Linked DNA regions of Homo sapiens: all the other regions are linked to region 2. Evidence: fine-mapped expression QTL. A gene starts in region 2. Each other region holds a variant in brackets. All regions are shown on one strand. Distances are from middle to middle. Region 1 overlaps ATR (ATR checkpoint kinase). Region 2 holds the start of ATR (ATR checkpoint kinase). Region 3 overlaps TRPC1 (transient receptor potential cation channel subfamily C member 1).

What was found.
Region 1: its variant is fine-mapped to the expression of ATR in whole blood (TOPMed, PIP 0.94).
Region 3: its variant is fine-mapped to the expression of ATR in whole blood (INTERVAL, PIP above 0.99).

The regions. Positions count from the first base shown.
Region 1 is chr3:142,487,835-142,496,021 of GRCh38, reverse strand. ATR (ATR checkpoint kinase) reads left to right here. Exons shown (of 47, transcript NM_001184.4): 35 at 2,711-2,890. Among named protein-coding and RNA genes, the nearest start is that of XRN1, 44 kb to the right of the region's middle. The variant CT/T (reference allele first, on the strand shown) is at 4,860.
Region 2 is chr3:142,573,992-142,582,171 of GRCh38, reverse strand. ATR (ATR checkpoint kinase) reads left to right here and starts at 3,439. Exons shown (of 47, transcript NM_001184.4): 1 at 3,439-3,526. The coding sequence starts at 3,468. It also overlaps the pseudogene RPL6P9. RefSeq lists enhancers at 3,089-3,188, 3,489-3,648.
Region 3 is chr3:142,758,608-142,766,794 of GRCh38, reverse strand. The region is part of intron 4 of TRPC1 (transient receptor potential cation channel subfamily C member 1); the gene reads right to left. Among named protein-coding and RNA genes, the nearest start is that of TRPC1, 39 kb to the right of the region's middle. The variant T/AT (reference allele first, on the strand shown) is at 4,367.

The sequences.
Region 1 (8,187 bases), 86 kb after region 2:
TATATAGTAGTGACCCAGTAAATGTTGGTTAAATGAATGTAACTCTGTCACTTAGTTGCTGGCAGATAATTAGCTCTCTGTAGACTTGCCAGTGTTACTGTAAATATTCAGCTCTGATCTAGCCAGAAAGGGCCTAGCATCTGAACAGAAGTTCACGGCAGACCTCAGATTAAAGCCAAAGTAATAAGAAGGGGGTTTTTTAAACATTGGAACTACTTGCAAGGTTTATGACCCAGATTTATTTTTTATTTTTATTTATTTATTTATTTATTTATTTTGAACCGGAGTCTCACTCTGTTGCCCAGGCTGGAGTGCAGTGGCACGATCTCCGCTCACTACAACCTCTGCCTCCCGAGTTCAAGTGATTCTCCTGCCTCAGCCTCCTGAGTAGCTGGGACTACGGGTGTGTGCCACCACACCTGGCTAATTTTTTGTATTTTTAGTAGAGATGGGGTTTCACCGTGTTAGCCAGGGTGGTCTCGATCTCCTGACCTCATGATCCACCTGCCTCAGCCACCCAAAGTGCTGGGATTACAGGCGTGAGCCACCGCGCCTGGCCAATAACCCAGATTTAATGGCTATTACTTAAATTTCTCCTCAGGCTAGTCACCAGTTTAGAATTAGTAATAGGCATTACTAATAATAATAGCATGTTCTGGAATTGATACTTAGCAACTATTGTTGGTGCCATTTGTGGTTACACCAACTTGTGGTGGCTGAGAAAGGACAGGAGAGGTTTCCTGGATGAGAGGGGAAAGCAATTTATTCAGTGTGCATTAGTCAGTACCTGGTCATTTTATTGAGCTAGTGGTAGTCTATGTATTATAATACCTTAAACTCAAAATGTTCAAAATGCAATTTATTACCTAATACTCAATATCTGTTTCTCCTCTCATGTTTCCTACTTCTCTGAACAAGACTTTATTCCATCCTTCCATCAAAAACAGAAATCTGGACATCATCTTAAATTCCTTCTGCAACCTCACTTTTCACATCCAGCTGGAGACTAAATCTTTGTTCTTCAACCTTAGAAATATCTCTTGAATCCTCTCCCTCTTATTTATTTCCACTGCTTTAACTTATGACTTTATTATTTACTTCCTCTAACAATATTAACAACCATTTTAGGATCTCACCATTTCCCTGTATACGTTATTGCAGTTTGTGATCTTTCTAAAATCCACATCGAATCATGTTGCTCCTTCAAAAAGATTAAATCTTACAAAGTATTCTTCATACCTTTAGGATTAAGCCTAACTCTAGGAACTACACAAATCCCTTTCTGATCAAGTCCTGGCCTACTTCCTCAGTGTCATTCATCACCATCTCAAAAACCCTTTAAACTTCAGCTAAAATCAGACTATGTGCTTTTCTTCCAATTAAAATTATTATTCCATCTACCTAGAATGCCTTTCACTAAATTCTCTGCCAAGAAGATTTCTACTCATTCTTGAAAACCTAATTCAAATTTTCTTCGTTGATAACTTTTCCTGACTGTAGTTCTCCTCCATTTTCCTATATTCTTCAGGTAGGTTTAAGGGACTCTCTTCTCTATCCTGTATAATGCTGATGTATATTCCTCTGTTGTAACACTTAGCAAATATGCTTTTATTTCACATAGTTTCTTTTCTCATGTGACTATGAACTTTTTTTATGTCAGGGATTTTAATTTGTTTGTGATTGTCTTCAATTCCCTGAACTTTGATTATAGTCCTTTCTTGATATCCATGGAGGGATTGGTCCCAGGATTCTCTATGGATAACAAAATCTGTGGATACTCAAGTCCTTTATATAAAGTGGCATACACAGTATTTGCATATAACCTGCGGACATCCTCTTGTATACTTCTCTAGGCTACTTATAATACCTAATACAGTGCAAATGCTTTGTAAACAGTTGTTATACTTGTATTGCTTATTCATATTATTTTTAATTTTTTCTTTGTAATATTTCTTTTTTTTTTTAATTTAAATTTTTATGTTTTGAGAGAGACAGAGTCTTGCTCTGTTGCCCAGGCTGGAGTGCAGTGGCATGATCATAGCTCACTGATGCCTTGGACTCCTGCTCTCAAGCAATCCTCCCACCTCACCCTGAACTTTGTATCAAAGGCTATAAGCATAAGCCATCATGCCTAGCTTTCTTTTTTTTTTTTTAAGAGAGAGGATCTTGCTCTGTCACCCAGGCTGGAGAGCAGTGGTGTGTCATAGCTCACTGTAACTGCGAATTCCTGGGCTCAAGCGATCCTTCCCCCTCAGCCTCCCGAGTAGCTGGAATTATAGGCATGAGCCACTACACCTGGGTAATTTTTAAATTTTTTGTAGAGACAGGATCTTGCTATGTTGCCCAGGCTAGTATCAAACTCCTGGCCCCAAGCAGTCCCCCTGCCTTGGCATCCAAAAGCACTGGAATTGCAGAGATGAGCCACTGTGCCCAGCCATTCCTAATATTTTCTATCCACTGTTGGTTGAATCCATTGATGTGGAACCTGTGGCTACAGAGAGCCAACTGCAGTTATAAAATTAATTAGTAAATGAATGAATGAGATGAAGCAATGTTTCAGTTTTAGAATTTTACTTTAATAAGAGGCAAGTAAAAGATAAACATGAAATTACAAATGGATTTGTACAAAAACATAATGAACTAATACTTTTGCAGAAAATAGAAGTATGTTTTTAAATTAAAAGGCTTATTGTTGCCTTTTTTCTTTTAGGGTGATGTTCACCAGGCACTAATTGTTCTTCAAAAAGGTGTTGAATTATGTTTTCCTGAAAATGAAACCCCACCTGAGGGTAAGAACATGTTAATCCATGGTCGAGCTATGCTACTAGTGGGCCGATTTATGGAAGAAACAGCTAACTTTGAAAGCAATGCAATTATGAAAAAATATAAGGCAAGTATATGTATAATGCAGTTTCAGTTAACTCTGTTGACTACGTAAAATGACTTAAGTCTATATGGCAAAGCACATGTATAAAAATAACCAGGAAATTTTTTTGACTTTTCAGTGAGTATATAAGTATATGGATTATCACAAAATAAATATACTCATGAAACTGCCACCACATCAAGAAATAGAATATTATTTGAGCTCTATAACCCCACTACCCTTCATCCCAGTAATCACTATTCTCACCCTCTGTCTCAAAGTTAACTACATCCTAGCCTGAAAATTTTTCAGCAAAACCAATTTATAACTTCTTTACTAGGTATTAAACTTTATATAGATGGTGTTGTAAGAGATATACCTCTCAATAATCCATGGGTCAATGAAAACTTTCAATGGAAATTGAAAAGTACTTTGAACTGAATGATAATAAAAATGGCATATCATATCCTGTGCAGCTAAAGCCATTCTTAAAAGGGATTTAAATTTTTATTTGCATATATTCGAAGAAAATAAAGGTTCAAAATTAACGAGTTAAGTATCTATCCCAAAGAGTTAGAAAAGGAACTAAAAAAGTAGGGAGAGAAATAAAAAAGTAGAAGAAAGGAAATAATAAAGCAAAGAGCAGGTGGCTAGAATTTGTGGGACAGATTAACTGAGAGAAAAAAGTTAAACAGAGTAGTTCCTATCTGCATAGGAATTGTGTTCGCTGAATACCAGCCTGCACATGAATAATTCAGAATTCTATGAGGCCAAGCTAGGAATAACTGCTGGGGAAAGAATAAACATGCAGAGGCTATAAGAACAATTTCCAGAGCTCACACGGGATTGAGATTCATTCAGATTACAGGATTGAGAGTTATTCAGTCCACCAGCCAGATTAAGAGGCCTCATTGCATAATATGGAGCATTCAGTAAAGACCTTAAAAGGGCCACACCTTAGAAGTAGGACTAAATTAGTCCTAGGCTAAAAACTACTCTATATCCATACTAGAAGGGCAGTAAAACAAGCTTTAAGATGATTACACTGATCTTCAAGTAACCTTACTGCCTGCCAGATCAAAGCCTAACACTCTTTAAAGCAAGACAACAAAATCTAAAACTTGACAATGTAAAAATATATCCAGCATCCATTAAAAAATTACTCTGTGAATGAAGAAGCAGGAATATTTGAGCCACAGATAGGAAAAAAAATAAATCAGTAGAAATAGTTCTAGAAATGACAGGATTTAAAAACAGCTATTGTATATAGGCTCCATAAGTTTAAGAACATAAACAAAAATAAGAGCATGATGAGAAGAGAGAGAAATCAAAGATACAAGAAAGACCTAAATGGGACCAACAGCCAAAGCAAATGGCACAGACAGTGCTAATCTTTAGATCCAGGAAGTGTTGCATTCTGATGAAGATAAATAGGAGTCCAGCTCCTGTTCCTTGGTTACAAGAAGATGTCATGCCACCTAAGAAACTAACCTTGATTTGCATTAAAAACTATATTATCCTAAAGGGCAGTGATAATGAGGCAAGTTCTGAAACCATACTTGTAAGTTTCACCTTCCCAGTTAGAGAGATCTTCTGAATTTATTCTAGTATGTAAGACACAACAACTTATGAGGCACACAAAAACTCACCAGTACTTAACAGCAGAATTTGATAGCAAATATTCCAGTTCTCCCATCTCTGCCTGGGTACTAAAGCCAGGGTTAGGGAAGAGAGATGTTGTCAGACTACCAACTTTTCAGGTTCTGTTTCTTCTGCATACACCCCTAATTTCCTGTCATAAAGGCCTCAGTAGCTGCTTCTCTTGTTCTGGTTGCCTATACATGATGTAGACAGAAATGAGTAGAGAAAAGAATAGAGGCTGACTACTGTAGAATGACATGCAGATCCAAGGGGCCACATATTGCATGATTCCACTTACATGAAATGGCCAGAATAAGCAAATCCATAGAGACAGAAGGTAGATTAATGGGTA[CT/T]AGAGACTGAGGTTGGGGCTGGGAAGTGACTGCTAATTGGTACAATTTTTTTTTTGGAGTGATGAAAATGTTCTGGAATTAAATAGTGGTGATGGTTACACAACTCTGTAAATATACTAACAACAACTTTAAAAGTGTGAACTTTATAATATATTAATTATATCCCAATAGAGCTGTCATTTTAAAATATTACCCAAATGGCAATCTTTAAATAAAAAAAGAAGTAAAAGATACAAGGACTAGGAAAAAAATATAGGAAAGTTATTAATTGCAGATGATATGAATACATATGTAGAAAATTCAAAAGATTATAAACTATTCAAAATATTGAGTGAATTAAACAAGATTGCCTGATGATTTTATTTCTATATGACAACAAGAAAGGAATTTAAAACATACCATTTACAAGCAGAAAGTACTTGAACAGTTGGATATCTGTATGAGGAAAAAAATGATCTTCAACCTCTGCCTCATATGATAGACAAAATTGCTTCAAAAAAGTAGATTATAGATCTAAACTGAAAAGCTAAAATTATGAATTTTTAGATGAAAAAATAGAAGAAAATCTTTACAACCTTAGGGTAGGCAAAGGTTTTCTTAGGTCACACAAAGCATTAAGCATTTAAAAAATCCTGATAAATTAGATGTTCATCAAAGTTAAAACCTTTTCTAAGAAAGACAGTTAAGAAAATGAAAAGGTAAGCCATAGACTTGGAGAAAATACTTGTAATACATATATGACAGAGGATTTGTAGCTAAATTATAGAGAACCCTACAACTTAGTAAGACAATTTAAAGATCTGTGAGGCTAGGCACAGTGGCTCAGGCCTGTAATCCCGGTGCTTTGGGAGGCCGAGGCCTGAGGATCACTTGAAGCTAGGAGTTCAAAACCAGCCTGGGCAATATAGTGAGAACCTGTCTCTGCAAAAATAAAAATTAGCCAGGTATGGTGACGAATGCCTATAGTTTTAGCTATTCGGGAGGCTAAAGCAGGAGGATCACTTGAGCCTAGGAGTTCAAGGTTACAGTTAGCTATGATTGCACCACTGCATTCCAGCCTGAGTTACAGAGTGAAACTTTGTCTATTAAAAGAAAAAAAATACAGATCTGCAAAAGTCTTGGATAGACACTTCATAAAGAATACACGCAAATGGCCAAAAAGCAAATGAAAAGATGCTTAACATCATTAGTCATTAGGAAGATGCAAATTAAAACCACAATGAAATAACACATTACACACTAAAATGGCTAAAGTCTGAAAGACTAGCAATACCTATTAATGCAATAAATGCACCTGGTGGGGACTATAAAAAGTTAAATCTACCATATTCCATTCCATTCTTAGGTGTTTATCCAACAGAAACAATTACATATGTCAATAAAAAGACTTGTACACAAATGTTTATAGTAGGTTTAGTCACAAAAACTGGAAATAGGCCAGCTGGCCATCCAGAGAAGAATGGGTAAACAAACTGGTACAGTTGTATAATGGAATACTACCCTACAGTAAGAAGAAATGAACTACTGATACACGCAACAAGGTAGATTAATGTCATAGATATGCTGAATGAAAGAAGAGGGACATAAAAGACTATATGCTTATATGATTTCATTTATGTGACATTTTAGAACAGGTATAATTAATGTATATGCATAGAAATTATATCAGTATTTGCCTGGGTAGTTGGCAGGAGAGTGACGGCAAGGGTGGGCGCCCATAAGAACTTTCGAGAGTTAGGAATGTTCATCTTCTTGACTGGAATGATGGTTCCATGGGTGTATATGTCTTAAGAAAGTTGATTTAAAATTTTACTTTATTTTATTTTTGAGACAGGGTCTTGGTCTGTCAACCCAGGCTGGAGTATAGTGGCATGATTACAGCTCACTGCAGCCTCAACCTCCTGGGCTCAAGTGATCCTCCCACCTCAGCCTCTCAAGTAGCTGGGACTACAGGCACATGCCACCACACCCAGCTAATTTTTTATTTTGTGGAGATAGGGTCTTGCTGTTCTGCCAAGGCTGGTCTCAAACTCCCTGGCCTCTACTGATCCTCCCACCTCTGCCTCCCAAAGTGCTGGGATTATAGTTGTGAGCCACCATGTATGCCCAGCCTAAAATTTTTAAAGATATCATTTAGGATAGCAATAAAAATGATGAAATGCCTAGGATTAAATTGCACACAAGACCTCTCCACAAAATAAAAATTAAAACATTAAAATTGAGTGAAGTAAAAAAGAACTAAATAAATTGGTAGCTAGAATACATGTATGAATGGGAAGACTCAATAATATAATTATTTCTCTACAAACTGACCTAGAGGTTTAATGCATTACTCATCAAATGCTAACAGGTAATTGACAATTAGAATTTAAAACTTATGTGGAAACATAAAGGCCAAGAATAACCAAGAAGCTTCTCTGTCACCTTTCATTTTTTCAGTTTTAATTTGAAATAATCTTTGACTTCTAAAAAGTTAGTAGTAGTATAGGGAATTTCCATATCTACCCTTTACCGTGTTTCCACTAATTTTAATATCTTACACTACCAGAGTATCAGAAGTGGGAAATTAATATTGATAAACAATACTGTTAACTATCTGTAGACCACATTTCACCAGTTTTCCCAATAGTGTTCTTCTTCTGTCTAGAATTAAGGATTCCATATAGCATTAGTTGTCATATCTCCTTAGTGACCTCCAATCTATCTGAGATGCTCTTTACTGTATCGTGTGAGGTCAGGTGCAGGGAGAAAATAGTTGGCCCAATCAAAAGAGGTAATTGGGGAGAGTTTAATGAAAAACTAGATTAAGGGAAATTAACAAAGGATGGTGAAAGTACCCCATGGCTAGCAACAACAGAGAGTCGTTGCTAACTCTAGACCTGAAGGAGCAAAAGGATAGGGCATTTACTGGAACCTGTACAGGGAGCTAAATTTGTAGGAAAGGACCATTGGACCAGAACTTAACCTTAGGGAAAGAAACACCACCACTGTCAACTGCAGCCCAGCAGGAAGGAAACGAGCAGGTATAAAGACCTTAACCTCACTCTCCCCCTCACCCTCTAATCTATTGCTACCTTCCATTGATTGAACTTCACAGGAAGCCAGAGGGCAAACAGGCCCATTGATATAAATCATCAATTTCAGTTTGCTGGGGCACTGAGCAGAGTGGAAAAGGCTAAAGTTGGCAAGTGTATCTATCTGGAGGGGCAAACTGTGAATAACCAAAATAGTCTTTTCAATAAATGTTGTTGTATCACTTGGGTATCTTATAGGAAAACAAAAAATCAAACTTGATCCCTTCTTCCCACCATAAACAAAAGTAAACTT
Region 2 (8,180 bases):
CTCCTGCCTCAGCCTCCCCAGCAGCTGGGATTACAGATGCCCGCCACCACGCCAGGCTAATTTTTGTATTTTTAGTAGAGATGGGGTTTCACCATGTTGGCAGGCTGGTGTCGAACTCCTGACCTCAAGTGATCCACCCGCCTCAGGCTCCCAAAGTGCTGGGGTAACAGGAGTGAGCTAGCGTGCTTGGCCACGAGTCCACAGCTTTCTGATCAACCTTGCATTGCTCCATAATCTTCTATTACTCTCTTTCTGTGTTGACGATGTCACTTTCCCAGTATTTGGGCTTCCATAGCATCATCTTCTTAAGCAAGCATTGGTAAGATGTTTTGGAATTTTCACATTGCTGATTTCAATTTTGTGATGACCTCTGGTGTGTTTCCCACAGAATGTGAATGAGGACCAGAGGTCCAGTCACAATTAACAAGCCACTCCTCAGCTGCTCCAGTAAAACCACCCTCTTGCCTTTGTGGTGCCCAGTGAGGATAAGCAGAATGATCCCAGGAGAGAAGCTAGTTTGCAGTTTTCTCTGTGCTGACTGAAGTGTTTCTGTTTGTTTTTTCTGTGGCTCAACAGCAGCTTTCCAGGCACATCTTTGGAAGGATCTAGGCATTTTGTAGGGTTTACTTTGCAAAAAGTATCACCATTCTTGTTGCCACCAACTGGTTTTGTAGCAATGGCAAGAACCTTTTCCTTTTTCAAGTCTGGACTTTCTTCTTTTTAATTCTGGATTTAGTACCCGAGTACTTCCTCTTGTACCTGGCCTTTTTGACATAGCAGATTGAGAATATCTGCCAATTCCTCTGATAAGGACAGGATTTCCGCTGCAGGGGGGCTTCCCTTTCTTTGGCTTTTTAGCCTTGAGGTGTTTTTGTTTGTGTTTTTTGACGGAGTTTCGCTCTTGTTGCCCAAGCTGGAATGCAATGATGCAATCTCGGCTCACTGCAACCTCCGCCTCTCGGGGTCAAGCGATTCTCCTGCCTCAGCCTTCCGAATAGCTGAGATTACGGGCGCCCACCAGCACACCCAGCTAATTTTTTGTATTTTTAGTAGAAATGGAGTTTCACCATGTTAGCCAGGCTGGTCTTGAATTCCTGACCTCAGGTGATCCGCCTGCCTCAGCCTCCCAAAGTGCTGGGATTACAGGCGTGAGCCACCGTGCCCAACCGAAGTTATGTTTTAACCTTGCCACTAGCATCAGCCTTCTTGGCTTCACGTTTCTTCTCCTTGGTGTCTGGCTTCTCAACTTTTTCCCCCACCATCTTACAAGACGGGAAGGAGCTATTTTTTTTAATACATGTTGGAATATCCTGGCTATGCAGATACAAATAGTAATATAACATCCACCCAAATATAACATTAAATTTTGATTAAATAATAATTAATTCAAATCCTACTAAAAGAAAACCCTTAGGGATACATTGAAGCTTCATCATTTCATTCCCTTCTCTCCCTTCCACAGGTGCAACTATCCTGGAGTTGATATCTATCTTTGCCAAACATGTTTTCATACTTTTATCAAACATATTTGTATACATAACTCACACAACGCATTGTTTTGTGGTTTTAAGATTGTATATAAATGATATGACACTATTATGTATACCTTTGAATTTGCTTTTTCAATCAATGTAGTTTTCAGGATTCATCGTTGGTATAGGTAGTATAATTCATTCATTTTAACTATGAAATTATATTCCACTTTATGACTTTACCCCCTCTTATTTAATCTTTGCTGTAATCTTGTGAGGTAGACATTATTAATCCCATTTTATAAATGAAAAAATGGAAGTATTAAGAGATTAAGTAACTTTACTGAGGTCATATAGTTTCTAGCAGATGGAATGAGAACTTGTGTAGGGCCTGTAACTCCCAATCCCATGTCCTTTCTCCTAAAACATTCAGTGATTCATTCAACAAATGTTTACTGAACACCACCTATGTGCCAGGCACAGTTTTAGGTCCTGGGTATCTGAGAGTGAACAAAATAGACAAGACCTTGCTCTCCAAGAGCTTACACTCTAACTGGAGAGAGACAATAATATAGTATGTCCGGGTGTGGTGGCTCTCACCTCTAATTCTAGTACTTTGGAAGGCTGAGGTGGGAGGAGCGTGTGAGGCCAAGAGTTTGAGACCAGCCTGGGCAACATAGCAAGACCTTGTCTCTACAAAAAATAATTAGCCAGGCGTGGTGGCATGTCTGTAGTCCCAGCTACTCAGGAGGCTGAGGCAGGAGGATCAATTGAGCCCAGGCTGAGGTGAGAGGATCGCTTGAGCCTGGGAGATTGAGGCTGCAGTGAGCTATGATTGCAACATTCATTGCACTAGAACCTGAACAACAGAGTAAGACAATGTATCTAACAAAAAAAAGAGGGTGAGACAGAATGTGTATATATGTTAGTCTATATGAGGCTCTTTGGTGTTAATTTGGCAAACACCTGAAGGAAAAAGGGCAATGACAGAGTGGTGTTCAAGGCAGAGAGTACAGCAAATGCAAAGTTCTTGAGGCAAGAGCATATTTGGCTGTCATTCCATCACTTTTTTCTTTAAGATACTGTATCGGTTAACTATCCTCATGTACCAAAGAACAAATGTAAACATACTGCATGACTTTGAGTGATTAACTACATAACTTTGACATGTCAACAATCTCTTATGGTGGTCATCTTTCCAATAAATTGAGTTGAGCTAGAAAATGTGTATTGCCAAAATCCATTGATTTACTTTAAAAATTAAATCACAGGTTGCGGATGCCCGTAATGGTGGCATTTCCACACACAGTACTGTTGCTGATTTGATGAGACACAAATATATTCCAACCCCATTTTCAAATATTAAAAGTTGGTAGGGTCCTCAACGAAACCTAACAGTGACTTCAAGTTGAAAAAAAATGCTTAAAAGGAAAAAAACAGGGAGAGCCCACCTTTTGGCCTGTATCTCTCAGAAAGAGGGACAAGAGCGGTGGGAACGTGAGGAACTTTTAAAATGTGAGAGCGTTACTCTGGGGAAACCTGGAGTTTACTCTTGGCCTTTACTCGCTGGACTGTCATAGTTCTCACATTTGTGAAGCGAGTCTGGGCTGGCGGCCCTCAAGCCCTATCCTCCCCCGATGCGGAAGTCTTGCTTCTCTGTGCCTCCCAGGCTTGAGAACAGCAGAGTCTGGCCGCTCAAAACGAAAGCTTCACGAACGTCGCTCGCTCGGTGCTGAGAAAGAAGCCTGACGCGACCCGGGAAACTTGACCGACGCACGCCCGCCCGCTTGCCCCGCCCCCTAACGGCTTCCCGGCTTCCCCCGGGTCCTATGCAGAAAAGACGCTGGGCCTGGCAAGCGGGGCCAGTAGCGGCTTCCGGGAGGAGTTTTGGCCTCCACACGGCTCCGTCGGGCGCCGCGCTCTTCCGGCAGCGGTAGCTTTGGAGACGCCGGGAACCCGCGTTGGCGTGGTTGACTAGTGCCTCGCAGCCTCAGCATGGGGGAACATGGCCTGGAGCTGGCTTCCATGATCCCCGCCCTGCGGGAGCTGGGCAGGTAGGGCTAGGCCCAGCCTGGGTCCTGCATCCTCCTCCGCTGATTCCGGCTTGGGTTTCACGTGCTCTCCCCTCCCCTGCTGCGCTATGGCTGGGATCCCCTAAGCCCCCGCTGCGGCCCTTGTGGAGATGCTCCGTGGCTGATTTGGGCGCTTCTCCCTCAGAGTGCCCGTTGATAGCACATGGGGCAGTCGCCACAAACCTGCGGGAAGCCGGTCCGTGGGGGAGAGAGGCGTCTGCCGGCCCTGGTTTACCACTCACCCCGATCGAGAGTTTGCTTCCTGCAGCTGGAGGAAGAGTCCCTGCTGATCGCTTTCTGGTCACTTTTCTACACTCATTTTCTTCTCGAAAATCTTTTTCCTTAGACGAGGGACTTGACCCATCAGTTTCTGTTCTTTGTGATCACTCGTGGAGGAATTGGTTTTTAGCCTTACATTTTGTCCCCAAACTGCCCTTGAAAGAAAATCACCGCTTCTCATTTTCTGCAAGTGACATCACTTGCTGGAAAAGGCAGTTTTTTTCTTTGAAGTGAAGTCATAGTACATACTGAAGATGTGACCTCCCTCGTATTGATCGTCCAGTTCCCGATCCGTTATTTTAGTCAGAAATTGGAGAGATAGACCCCTGGGTCCACAAAATCTCAGCGTGCACAGAGTGTTGCCAAAATTTGGAGACAATTTAATATTTCATTTGCAAATGCATGTTGTCTGTAAACCTCATGAAAACCAGTATCTTACCACAAGGAGGGAGAGGTGTTGATGGCTCTCACACCTCTTCAATACACAGGCAGGCTTCCCTGAACCAGGCCTAAAGACTCGGTAGAGCTTGTTTTGCTTTGTTTGTTTTAATTCTACACTACTGCGAACAAGAAATAAATAAGCTTGTGCTGCTACCGCAGTTAAATTATCATTTGGAATAACTGCTTCCCAATTTCTTAAACTGTTTGAAAACTTTCCACACAAAGTCAAAGCTGACATTAAGCCAATGGGATAGCTACTTCTCTTTCTTTTTGCAGCGCAGTTGTGTTCATTTCCACTGGTTGGCCATCCAAATAATCTAGTCTCAATATATGAATAAAAGGATAAATGAAGGGACCATTCTTGTCGTAACTGCATCACTATTTTTGAGTGTGTGAATTTTTTCCACTTATCTGTGGCAAGTATACTTTGTGTTTAGTTTATAAAATAACCTCTACCTCTCTAAAAGAAGAGGAAGAAAAGTGATCATTGTAGGAAGTTGGTTTACAAATTTCATCTTTCAGGCTCATTGTGAAGCTGAGTATATTTTTGCCACTTTGCTTTAAAGTAGAATTAACTGGTTAATACTTCTCTTCCCTCTTCTGTCTTCCTCCGTGAGTCCTGTTAATAAAAATAATTGGTTCTTGGATTATATATAGTCGGTTTCATCAGTAGAGTTTATGTTACCTTTCATTTATTTGTAGCTATTCCAAGAGAAAGAATAGAAAAACTGACCCACAGAGAGTTGTCTAATAGTTTTTAATTGTCATGGCTTTTTCATTACAACTACTTGAATCAAAAAAGCTAATCAATTTTCATAGTATATCCATGACATAGAATGAAACAAGTGTTACCACTGTTTAAGAAAAAGGGACAGAGAAGTTGAAGAACCAAAGGCACAGCTAGCAGATAACAGAGCTAGGTTTCAGATTCAAGCTTTCAAGGCCTTTTCTTCCAAAATGTTTCCTCTTAATTGACTATGGCAATTAGACTACTGAAAAAAAAAGATATTAGTGTTCTAATTTATGGGCTGCTCTTCCTCAGTCCCTCAGATAAATTTTGTCCTATTGTTTTTTTGCTATTAGCAGTCTGCTCTGCATAATCTTGCTAAATGACCTTTCCACTCTCCTGCCTTCAACTATAATCTGCTATTTGATGACTACTAATATGTTTCTCCAAATCATGTCTTCTATAGAATTGTATATTTACTGTATACTGGTAGTTTCACTGAGTGTCCTATGTGTAGTTAAGGTTCAGAATATCCAATACAAATTCCCCACATGTCCTAGCTTTCACAAGCTTTCTTTTTTTAAATTAAAAAAATTATTTTTCTCTTATTCATTGAAGTAGAGATATCTCAGTACATGGCACCATATTCACTTAGTTCTCCAAACTGGAAATCTAGAAGTCATTCTTAACTATTTTCACATGTGCTTTCAGTCTATGTCCTTGGCCCTCTTTTAATCTGTGCTGTCTTCCCAAGTAATCTTACCTAATCTCATGGCTTTAAATGTCATCCATATGCTGATAACTCCCAAATTTATATTTCTAGATCGGAGATATATATTAGGTTGCTTACTCAACATCCACACTGGGAAGTGAAAATTAACATATCCAAAGCAGAACGCCTGATTTACTGCGCCCTTGAATTTGTTCCTTCTCCTGTGTTATCGTAAATATGCCAACCAAAAGCCTAGGAGTCATCCTTGGTTTTTTTCCCTTGTCGCTTAATAATCCATAAGTTAGTTCTGACAACCATATGTTTAAGATACATCTAGAATCTAACACTTCTCACTGTCTCCACTGCTACCACCAGAATTTCTTACCTGAACTATTACAGTAACCTTAGTTGATCTTTCCATTTCTACTTTTACCTACTTATAATAGATTTTCCACTCAGTAAAGTGATTTTTCATCTATTAGTCATATTGTAAGTTCCCCTGCACAAAACCGTCCTTTGACATTCCAGCACACTTAAAATCAGTATAAAATCCAAACTCCTTACCAAGGCCTCTAAGGTTCTACATAATCTGGCTCAGCCTGCCTCTGACTTCATCACCTTTTATCCCTCTTTTGCTTACTTTACTCTAGTGATACTGACCTTGTTTCTCCAGGATACCAAGGCTGTTCCTGCCTTTAATCGTTTGCTGTTCCTTCTATCTGAACACTGGATGGTTTCATTTAGATGTCATTTCAGAATCACCTTCTCTGATTTTCCTACTTGAGATTGCTTTGTAGTTGTAAGACATTTTCAAATGTGATAGTTGCTATTAAAATGTTAAATGGAACAGTGGGATGTGGAGGAGGTTCTGAGGAGCAGCAGCATTAGCCACTAGAGGAGATTTGATGGTGTAAAGAAGCTAGTCACGTGAATCTGGGATGGAATAGGAAGTACAAAGGCCCATAAGTGGGAATGAGCCTGCTTTTTTTTTTTTTTTTTTGAGACGGAGTCTCGCCCTCTCCAGTGGCGTGATCTCTGCTCACTGCAACCTCTGCCTCCCGGGTTCAAGCGATTTTCCTGTCTCAGCCTCCCTTTCCTGTAGCTGGGACTACAGGCTTGCACCACCGAGCTAATTTTTATATTGTTAGTGAAGATGGGGTTTTACCATGTTGCACAGGTTGTCTCCAACTCCTGACCTCAAGTGATGCACCCACCTCAGCCACCATGCCAAGGCTGAATGAGCCTACTTTTAAAAGGATAGTAAGAAGGCTGGAGCACAGGGAGTAAAGAGGGGAGTGGTATGAGTTAAACAGGGAGGGGTAGGCAAGGGCCACATCCTTCAGCACCTTGGAGGCTAGAAAAAGGAGTGAGATTTTATTGTGTGATGGGAAACCATTGGAATCTTTTAAACAGGGAAATAAGCAAGTTTTTTAAAACTTGCTTAATTTTTACTTCCTTAAAATCCTTCAGTGCTTACACATTGCCTTCAGTGTAAAATCCAAACTACTTAGCCAGTCCTTTGAAATTTAACCTTATCTTCCCTCTTCAGCTGCATCTCTAAAGGCTTTAGCCACATAGAGCCTCTTACAGTTTCCAGTGCTTGGACTACCCTCCCTCTTACCCTTATTTCACTGCCTTGTCCCTTAGGGAGTCAGTTTTGTATCACCTCGTTAAGGAAGCCATGACTGACAGGGCCCTGCTCAGGGCTGAGTGTCCCTTTGTGTTCTTTCTTGGGCCTGTCAGTTCTTAACCATAATTACCTCTTGTTTGTCCTTTAATCTGCAAATTATTTTAGGGCAGGTGCATTCTGTCTTGGTTATCCTGGTATTTGATGCTTACCTCAGAGGAGGTGCCTAAGCTTTATATAATACTTACATTAATACTCAAATTTTATAGTATGCTTTTGAAAAGTTATACCCTCTTAGCTCAGTTCCAGGGTAGAAGTCACAAAATAAGAAGTGCTCACTCCTGTGAGTTTTCTTTCTTTTTTCTTTTTTTTTTTTTTTTTTTGAGACTGGCTCACCTGTTGCTCAGGCTGGAGTTCAATAGCATGAACATGTCTCACTGCAACCTCTGCCTCCTGGGGTCAAGCGATCCTCCCACCTCAGCCTCCCAAGTAGCTGGGACTACAGGTGTGTGCCACCATGCCTGGCTAATTTTTGTATTTTTGTAGACGGGGTTTCACCATGTTGCCCAGGCTGGTCTCAAACTCCTGGGCTCAAGTGATCCGCCCACCTCAGCCTCCCAAAGTGCTGGGATTACAGACATGAGCCACCACGCCCGGCCAAGTTTCTTTCTTCTGATAGTAGATCTAATGAATGGTAATCAATTTACATTTTTCTAAAACTGATTTTTAAAAATTACACAAATAATACATGAGTACATAATCTTTACAAAATGAAACTTTGTAAGAAACTCTGACCACTACCCACAATCCTGGCTCCTCTTCCCATGTTCCTCTTTGTTCACATTTTTAA
Region 3 (8,187 bases), 180 kb before region 2:
CTCAATAGGCCGTCTGCAGGCTGAGGAGCAAGGAGAGCTAGTCTGAGTTCCGAAACTGAAGAACTTGGAGTCCAGTGTTTGAGGGCATCCAGCATGGGGGAAAATGTAGGCTGGGGCCAGGCATGGTAGCTCACACCTGTAATCCCAGCACTTTGGGAGGCCGAGGTGGGTGAATCACCTGAGATCAGGAGTTTGAGACCAGCCTGGCCATACTAAAAATACAAAAATTAGCCAGGCATGGTGGTACATGCCTGTAGTCCTATCTACCCAGGAGGATGAGGCAGGAAGATGGCTTGAACCCAGGATGTGGAAGTTGCAGTGAGCTGAGATCGCAACACTACACTCCAGTCTGGGTGACACAGTGAGACTCCATCTCAAAAAAAAAGAAAAAAAAAAAAAAGATGTAGGCTGGGAGGCTAGGCCAGTCTCTTTTCACATTTTTCTGCCTGCTTATATTCTAGCCACACTGGCAGCTTATTAGATTGTGCCCACCCAGATTAAGGGTGGGTCTGCCTTTCCCAGTCCACTGACTCAAATGTTAATCTCCTTTGGCAACACCCTCACAGACACACCCAGGATCAATACTTTGTACCCTTCAATCCAATCGAGTTGACATTCAGTATTAACCATCACATAGTAATTGATTTTAAAACTTACTATAAAGCGATAGTAATCAGTACAGAGTTATATTGATGTAAATATAGACACATAAGCGTTCCTTTTTCTCCATAACCTTGCCAGCATCTGTTTTTTTTTTTACTTCTTAATAGACATTCTGACTGGTATGAGATGGCATCTCATTGTAGATTTGATTTGCATTTCCCTAATGATCAGTGATATTGAGCCTTTTTTTCATATGCTTGTTGGCCACATGTATGTCTTCTTTTGAAAAGTGTTCATGTCCTTTGCCCACTTTTTAATGGGGTTATTTAAGTTCTTTATAGGTTGTGGATATTAGGTCTTTGTCAGATGCATACTTTGCAGATATTTTCTCTCATTCTATAGATCATCTGTTTATTCCCTTTATAGTTTCTTTTGTTGTGTAGAAGCTCTTCAGTTTAATTAGGTCCCACTTGTCAATTTTTGTTTTTGTTGAAATTACTTTTGAGGACTTTAATCCACCTTGAGTTAATTTTTTTATATGGTGATAGGTAGGGGTCCAGTTTCATTCTTCTGCATCTGGATAGCCAGTTATTCTAAGACTATTTATTGAACAGGAAGCCTTTTTCCTCATTGCTTATTTTTGTTTACTTTGTCAAAGATCACATGGTGGGGGTGCAGCTTTATTTCTGGATTCTCTATTCTGTTCCATCGGTCTATATGTCTGTTTTTGTGTTGTACCATGTTGTTTTGGTTACAGTAGCCTTGTGGTATAGTTTGAAGTCAGGTAATGTGATGACTCTGACTTTGTTCTTTTTGCTTAAGATTGCTTTAACTTTTCAGTCCTTTTTTGGTTCCATATGAATTTTAAAATAGTTTTTTCTAAGTCTGTGAAAAATGATGTTGGTAGTTTGACGAGAATAGCATTGAATCTGTAAATTGCTTTGGGTAGTATGGCCATTTTAACACTATTAATTCTTCCTATCCATGAGCATGGACTGTTTCTCCATTTGTTTGTATTGTCTCTGATTTTCTTCAGTAATGTTTTGTAGTTCTCATTGTAGAGATTTTTTTTTACCTCCTGAGTTAGCTGTATTCTTACATATTTTATTCTTTTTGCAGCTATTGTAAATGGGACTGCATTCTTGATTTGGCCCTCAGCTTGAACAATGTTGATGTATAGAAATTCTGCTTGAAGATCAGCTGTTTGAAAATACACATTCAGCGGAGAAAAAAGACAAAAGAACAAAAAGGAACAAAGACTGCCTATAAGATATAAAAGAGTACCTCAAAAGACCAAATGTAAGAATTCCTGTGTTTAAGAGGGAGCAGAGCAAGAACAAGGGATAAATAACTTATTCAAAGAAATAACAACAGAAAACTTTCCAAAACTTGAGAAAGATATAAATATCCACGTACAGGAAGGTCTTAGACCACCAAACAGATTCAATCTATACAAGACATATAATAATCAAACTCACAAAGGTCAATGACAAAGAGAATACCCTAAAATCAGCTACAGAAAAGAAGCAAATAACATATAAAGAAGCCCCAATTCATCTGGAAACAGACTTCTCAATGAAACCATGCAGGCAGAAGGGAGTGGAATGGCATTTTCAAAGTGCCCAAAGGGAAAAAAAAGCCCTGCCATCCAAGTGTTTTGTATCCAGAAAAAATTGTTATTTAAATAAGAAGTAGAGATAAAGTCTTTCCCAGACAAATGAAAGCTGAGACAATTCATCACTACCAGATCCACCTTGCAAAAAATGCTAAATGGAGTTCTTCAATCTGGAAGAAAATACAAAATACCAGTGTGCAAAGAAAAAATGTTCAAGGTATAAAAACCATTGGTAAAATTAAGTATACAGACAAACACAGAATAATCTATTACTGTATCTGTGGTGTACAATCCATTCATATCTCTAGTGTGAAGCCTCCAAGACAAGTTTATCAAAAACAATAATAACTATAGCAACCTGTTAAGAAATAGGTAATATAAAAATATATCAGTTGACAACTAAAAGTGAAAATGAAATAGGTAATATAAAAATATATCAGTTGACAACTAAAAGTGAAAATGTTGGGAGAAGAAGCTAAAGTGTAGAATTTTTTTTTGCCTTTGTTTCCATTCTTTTGTCTGTGATCTAAAATAAGTGTCATCTCTTTAAAATAATTTGTTATATATATATATATATGTATGTATGTATGTGTATATATATATATATATATATATATTTCTTTTTTTTGAGACGGAGTCTCGCTCTATTGCCCAGGCTGGACTGCAATAATTTGTTATATTTATAAGATGTTTTTTGCAAGAATCATGGTAATGATAGTATGAAACCTATAATATATTCACTAAAAATAAACATCAATAAATTAAAATATACTACCAGAGATAATCACTTAACTACAAAGGAAGACAATAAGAAACAAAAAAAGGAAAAGAGAATTCTCAAAACAAGGAGAAAACAAGCAATAAAATGGTTGCAGTAAGTCCATACTTATTTACAATCACACTGAATGTAAATGGTCTCAATTGTCCAATTAAGAAGCATAGTGTGGCTTAATGGATAAAGAAATAAGACCCAACTATATGCTGCCTTCAAGGAATCCATTTCACTTATAAAGATACACATAGACTGAGACTGAAAGATATTCCACGTAACTGAAAACTAAAAAAGATCAGGAGTATCTATTCTTATATCAGATAAAATAGACTACAAATCAAAGACTAAAAAAAGACAAAGAGGGTCACTATATAATGATAAAGGTGGCAATTCAGCAAGAAGATATAACAATTATGAATATCTATGAACCCAACACTGGAGCCCCCAAGTATATAAAGTTAATGCTTGCTTTATATACATGAAGGCTCCAGTGTTAGGTTCATAGATAAACTACAATACAATAATAGTAGGGGACTTTAACATGCCACTCTAGTAATAGACAAATCATCTAGACAGAAAATCAACAAAGAAAGAGTAAAATTAAACTACGCACTAGATCTAATAGGCCTAACTGACATTTATAGAACATTTCACCCTATTGCTACAGAATATACATTCTTTTCACCAGCACATGAAACATTTTCCAGAACAGACCATATCTTAGGCTACAAAACAAGTCTAAACAAATTCAGAAAAATACAAATCACAAGTATCTTTTCTGACCATATGGAATAAAACTAGAAATCAATAATAAAAGGAATTTGGAAAATACACAGACACATGGAAATTAAGTAACATACTCTTCAATCACCAATGGGTCAATGAAGAAATTAAGAAGAAAATTTAAAAATTTATTGAAACAAATGAACATGGGAATATAACATACCAAAATCTATGAGACAGAGCAAAAGTAGTACTGAGAGGGAAGGTTATAGCAATAAATTCCCATATTAGAAAAGTAGAAAGAGTTCAAATAATCTAATGATGCACCTTGAAGAACTAGAAAATCAAGAATAGGCTGGGCACGGTGGCTCATGCCTGTAATCCCAGCACTTTGGGAGGCCACGATAGGAGGATCACTTGAGGTCAGGAGTTTGAGAGCAGTCTGGCCAACATGGTGAAACCCCATTTCTACTAAAAATACAAAAATTAGCCAGGCATGGTGGCAGACACCTGTAGTCCCAGCTACTCGGGAGGCTGAGGTGGGAGAATTGCTTCAACCCGGGAGGTGGAGGTTGCAGTGGCCGAGATCACGCCATTGCACTCCAGCCTGGGTGACAAAGCGAGACTCCGTCAAAAAAAAAAAAAAAAAAAAA[T/AT]CAAGAATAAACCAAACCGAAAATTAGCAGAAGAAGAGAAATAAAGATCGAAGCAGAAATAAATGAAATTGGAATTTAAAAAAATACAGAAGAGGCCAGGCACGGTGGCTCATACCTGTAATCCTAGCACTTTGGGAGGCCAAGGCAGGCAGATCACTTGAGTCCAGGAGTTCAAGACCAGCCTGGGCAACATGGTGAAACCCCATCTCTACAAAAAATGCAATAATTAGTCAGATGTGGTGGCACGTGCCTATAGTCCCAGCTACTTGAAGGGCTGAGGTGGGAGGATCACTTGAGCATAGGAGGTCAAGGCTGCGGTGAGCTGTGATCACGCCACTGTACTCCAGACTGGGTGACAGAGTGAGACTCTGTCTCAAAAAACCAAAAACAAAAACCACAGAAGATCAATGAAATGAAAAACTGATTTTTTGAAAAGATAAACAAAATCAACAAACCTTAGCTAGACTAAGAAAGAGAGATCCAAATAAAAAAATAAGAAATGAAAAAGGAGATATAACTGAAACCTTAGAAATACAAAGAATCATTAAATAATATTATAAACTACTATATGCAAAACTAATTGAAAAACCTAGAAAAAATGGTTAGATTCCTGGACACAGACAACCTACCATGATTGAGCCATGAAGAAATAGAAAACCTCAACAAACCAATCATAAGTAACAAGATCAAAGCCATAATAAAAAGTTTCCCATCAAAGAAGTGCCCAAGACCTGATGGATTCACTGCTGTATACTACCAAACATTTCAAGAAAACTAATACCAACCTTACTCAAACTCTTCAAAAATACTGAAAAGGAGGGAATGCTTCCAAACTCATCCAAAGAGGCCAGCATTACCCTGATACCAAAACCATACAAGGAACCAACAAAAAAAGAAAACTACAGGCCAATACACTTTGATATATTGATATAATATGAACATAGATGCAAAAATCCAGCAAACTGAATTCAACAACACATTAAAAAGATCACTTGTCATGATCAAGTGGGATTCATCCCAGAGATGCAAGAATGATTCAACATATATGTATCAATAGACATGATACATGACATTAACAGAATCAAGAACAAAAACCATATGATTATTTCAATGGATGCCAGAAAAGCATTCAATAAAATTCAACATCCCTTTATAACAACAACAACAACCAAAAAAACCCTCATCAAAACAGGTATAGGAGGGACATACTTCAAAATAATAAAAGCCAACAGGGAAAAATTGAAGGCCTTTCCTCTAAAGACTGGAACAAGATGATGATGCCCACTTTCCCACTATTATTCAACATAATATTGGAAGTCCTGGCCACAGCAATTAAGCAAGACAAAGAGATAAAGAGTATCCAAATTGGAAAGGAAGAAGTCATATTAGCCTTGTTCTCAGATGACATGATCTTACATCAAAAAAACCCTAAATACTCCACCAAAAAACTATTAGAAGTGGTAAAAAAAATTCAGTAAAGTTGCAGGATACAAAAATCAACATACAAATGTCAATAACATTTATATATGTCAAAGAACAATCTGAAAAAGAAATCAAAAAAGCAATCCCATTTACAATGGTTACAAAAAACAAAACAAAACAAAACAAACTAGGAATCAATCTAACCAAAGAAGTGAAAGATCTAGGCAAGGAAGACCATAAAACTCTGATGAAAAAAATAGAAGAGGTCACCAAAAAATGGAAAGGTATTCCATGCTCACGTACTGGAAGAATTAATGTTGTTAAAATGACAACACTACCCAAAGCAATTTTGAGATTCCATGCAATCCTTATCAAAATACCAACGACATTCTTCAGAGAAATAGAAAAAATAATACTAAACTTTATATGAAACCACAAAAGACTCCAAATAGCAAAGTAATCCTAAGCAAAAAGAACAAAGCTGGAAGCATCACATTACCTGACTTCAAAATACACTACACAGCTATAGTAACCCAAACAGCATGGTACTGGCATAAATATAGACACATAGACCAATGGAACATAATACAGACCCACATATAAGTCCATGCATTTATGACCAACTCATCTTTGACAAAGGTGCCGAGAACATATTTTGGGGAAAGGATAGTCTTTTTAATAAATGCTGCTGGGAAAGCTGGATTAACTATGTGGAAGAATGAAATGAAACTAGACCCCAATCTCTCACAATACACAAAAATTAAATCAAAACTGATTAAAAACTTAAATATACAACCTCAAATTAAACATTGGGGAAACTCTTCAGGACACTGGTCTGGGCCAATTTTTTTTTGTGTGTAAGGCCTCAAAAGCACAGACAAGGCCGGGCACAGTGGCTCACGCCTGTAATCCCAACACTTTGGGAGGCCGAGGTGGGTGGATCATGAGGTCAGGAGATCGAGACCATCCTGGCTAACACAGCGAAACCCCATCTCCACTAAAAAAATACAAAAAAATTAGCCGGGCGTGGAGGCTGGGGCAGGAGAATGGCATGAACCCAGGAGGCGGAGCTTGCAGTGAGCCGAGATCGCGCCACTGCACTCCAGCCTGGGCAACAGAGCAAGACTCCCTTCCTTACACCTTATACAAAAATTAATTCAAGATGGATTTAAAGACTTAAATGTTAGACCTAAAACCATAAAAACCCTAGAAGAAAACCTAGGCAATACCATTCAGGACATAGGCATGGGCAGGGACTTCATGACTAAAACACCAAAAGCAACGGCAACAAAAGCCAAAATTGACAAATGGGATCTAATTAAACTAAAGAGCTTCTGCACAGCAAAAGAAACTACAACCTACAGAATGGGAAAAGTGAAAAGGCAACCTACAGAATGGGAGAAAATTTTTACAATCTACCCATCTGACAAAGGGCTAATATCCAGAATCTACAAAGAACTTAAACAAATTTACAAGAAAAAATCAACCCCATCAAAAAGTGGGCAAAGGATATGAACAGACACTTCTCAAAAGAAGACATTTATGCACCCAACAGACACATGAAAAAATGCTCATCATGACTGGTCATCAGAGAAATGCAAATCAAAACCACAGTAAGATACCATCTCACACCAGTTAGAATGGCGATCATTAAAAAGTCAGGAAACAACAGATGCTGGAGAGGATGTAGAGAAACAGGAATACTTTTACACTGTTGGTGGGACTGTAAACTAGTTCAACCATTGTGAAAGACAGTGTGGTGATTTCTCAAGGATCTAGAACTAGAAATACCATTTGACCCAGCCATCCCATTACTGGGTATATACCCAAAGGATTATAAAACATGCTGCTATAAAGACACATGCACACTTATGTTTATTGTGGCATTATTCACAATAGCAAAGACTTGGAACCAACCCAGATGTCCATCAATAATAGACTGGATAAAAAAAATGTGGCACATATACACCATGGAATACTATGCAGCCATAAAAAAGGATGAGTTCATGTCCTTTGTAGGGACATGGATGAAGCTGGAAACCATCATTCTGAGCAAACTATCGCAAGGACAGAAAACCAAACACTGCATGTTCTCACTCATTGGTGGGAATTGAACAATGAGAACACTTGGACACAAGGTGGGGAACATCACACACCAGGGCCTATTGTGGGGTGGGGGAGGGGGGAGGGATAGCATTAGAGATATACCTAATGTAAATGACAAGTTAACCGGTGCAGCACACCAACATGGCACATGTATACCTATGTAACAAACCTGCACGACATGCACATGTACCCTAGAACTTAAAGTATAATTGAAAAAAAAGAAAAAAAAAGTACAGACAACCAAAGCAAAAATAGACAATTGAGATTACAGTAAGCTAAAACACTTCCACAAA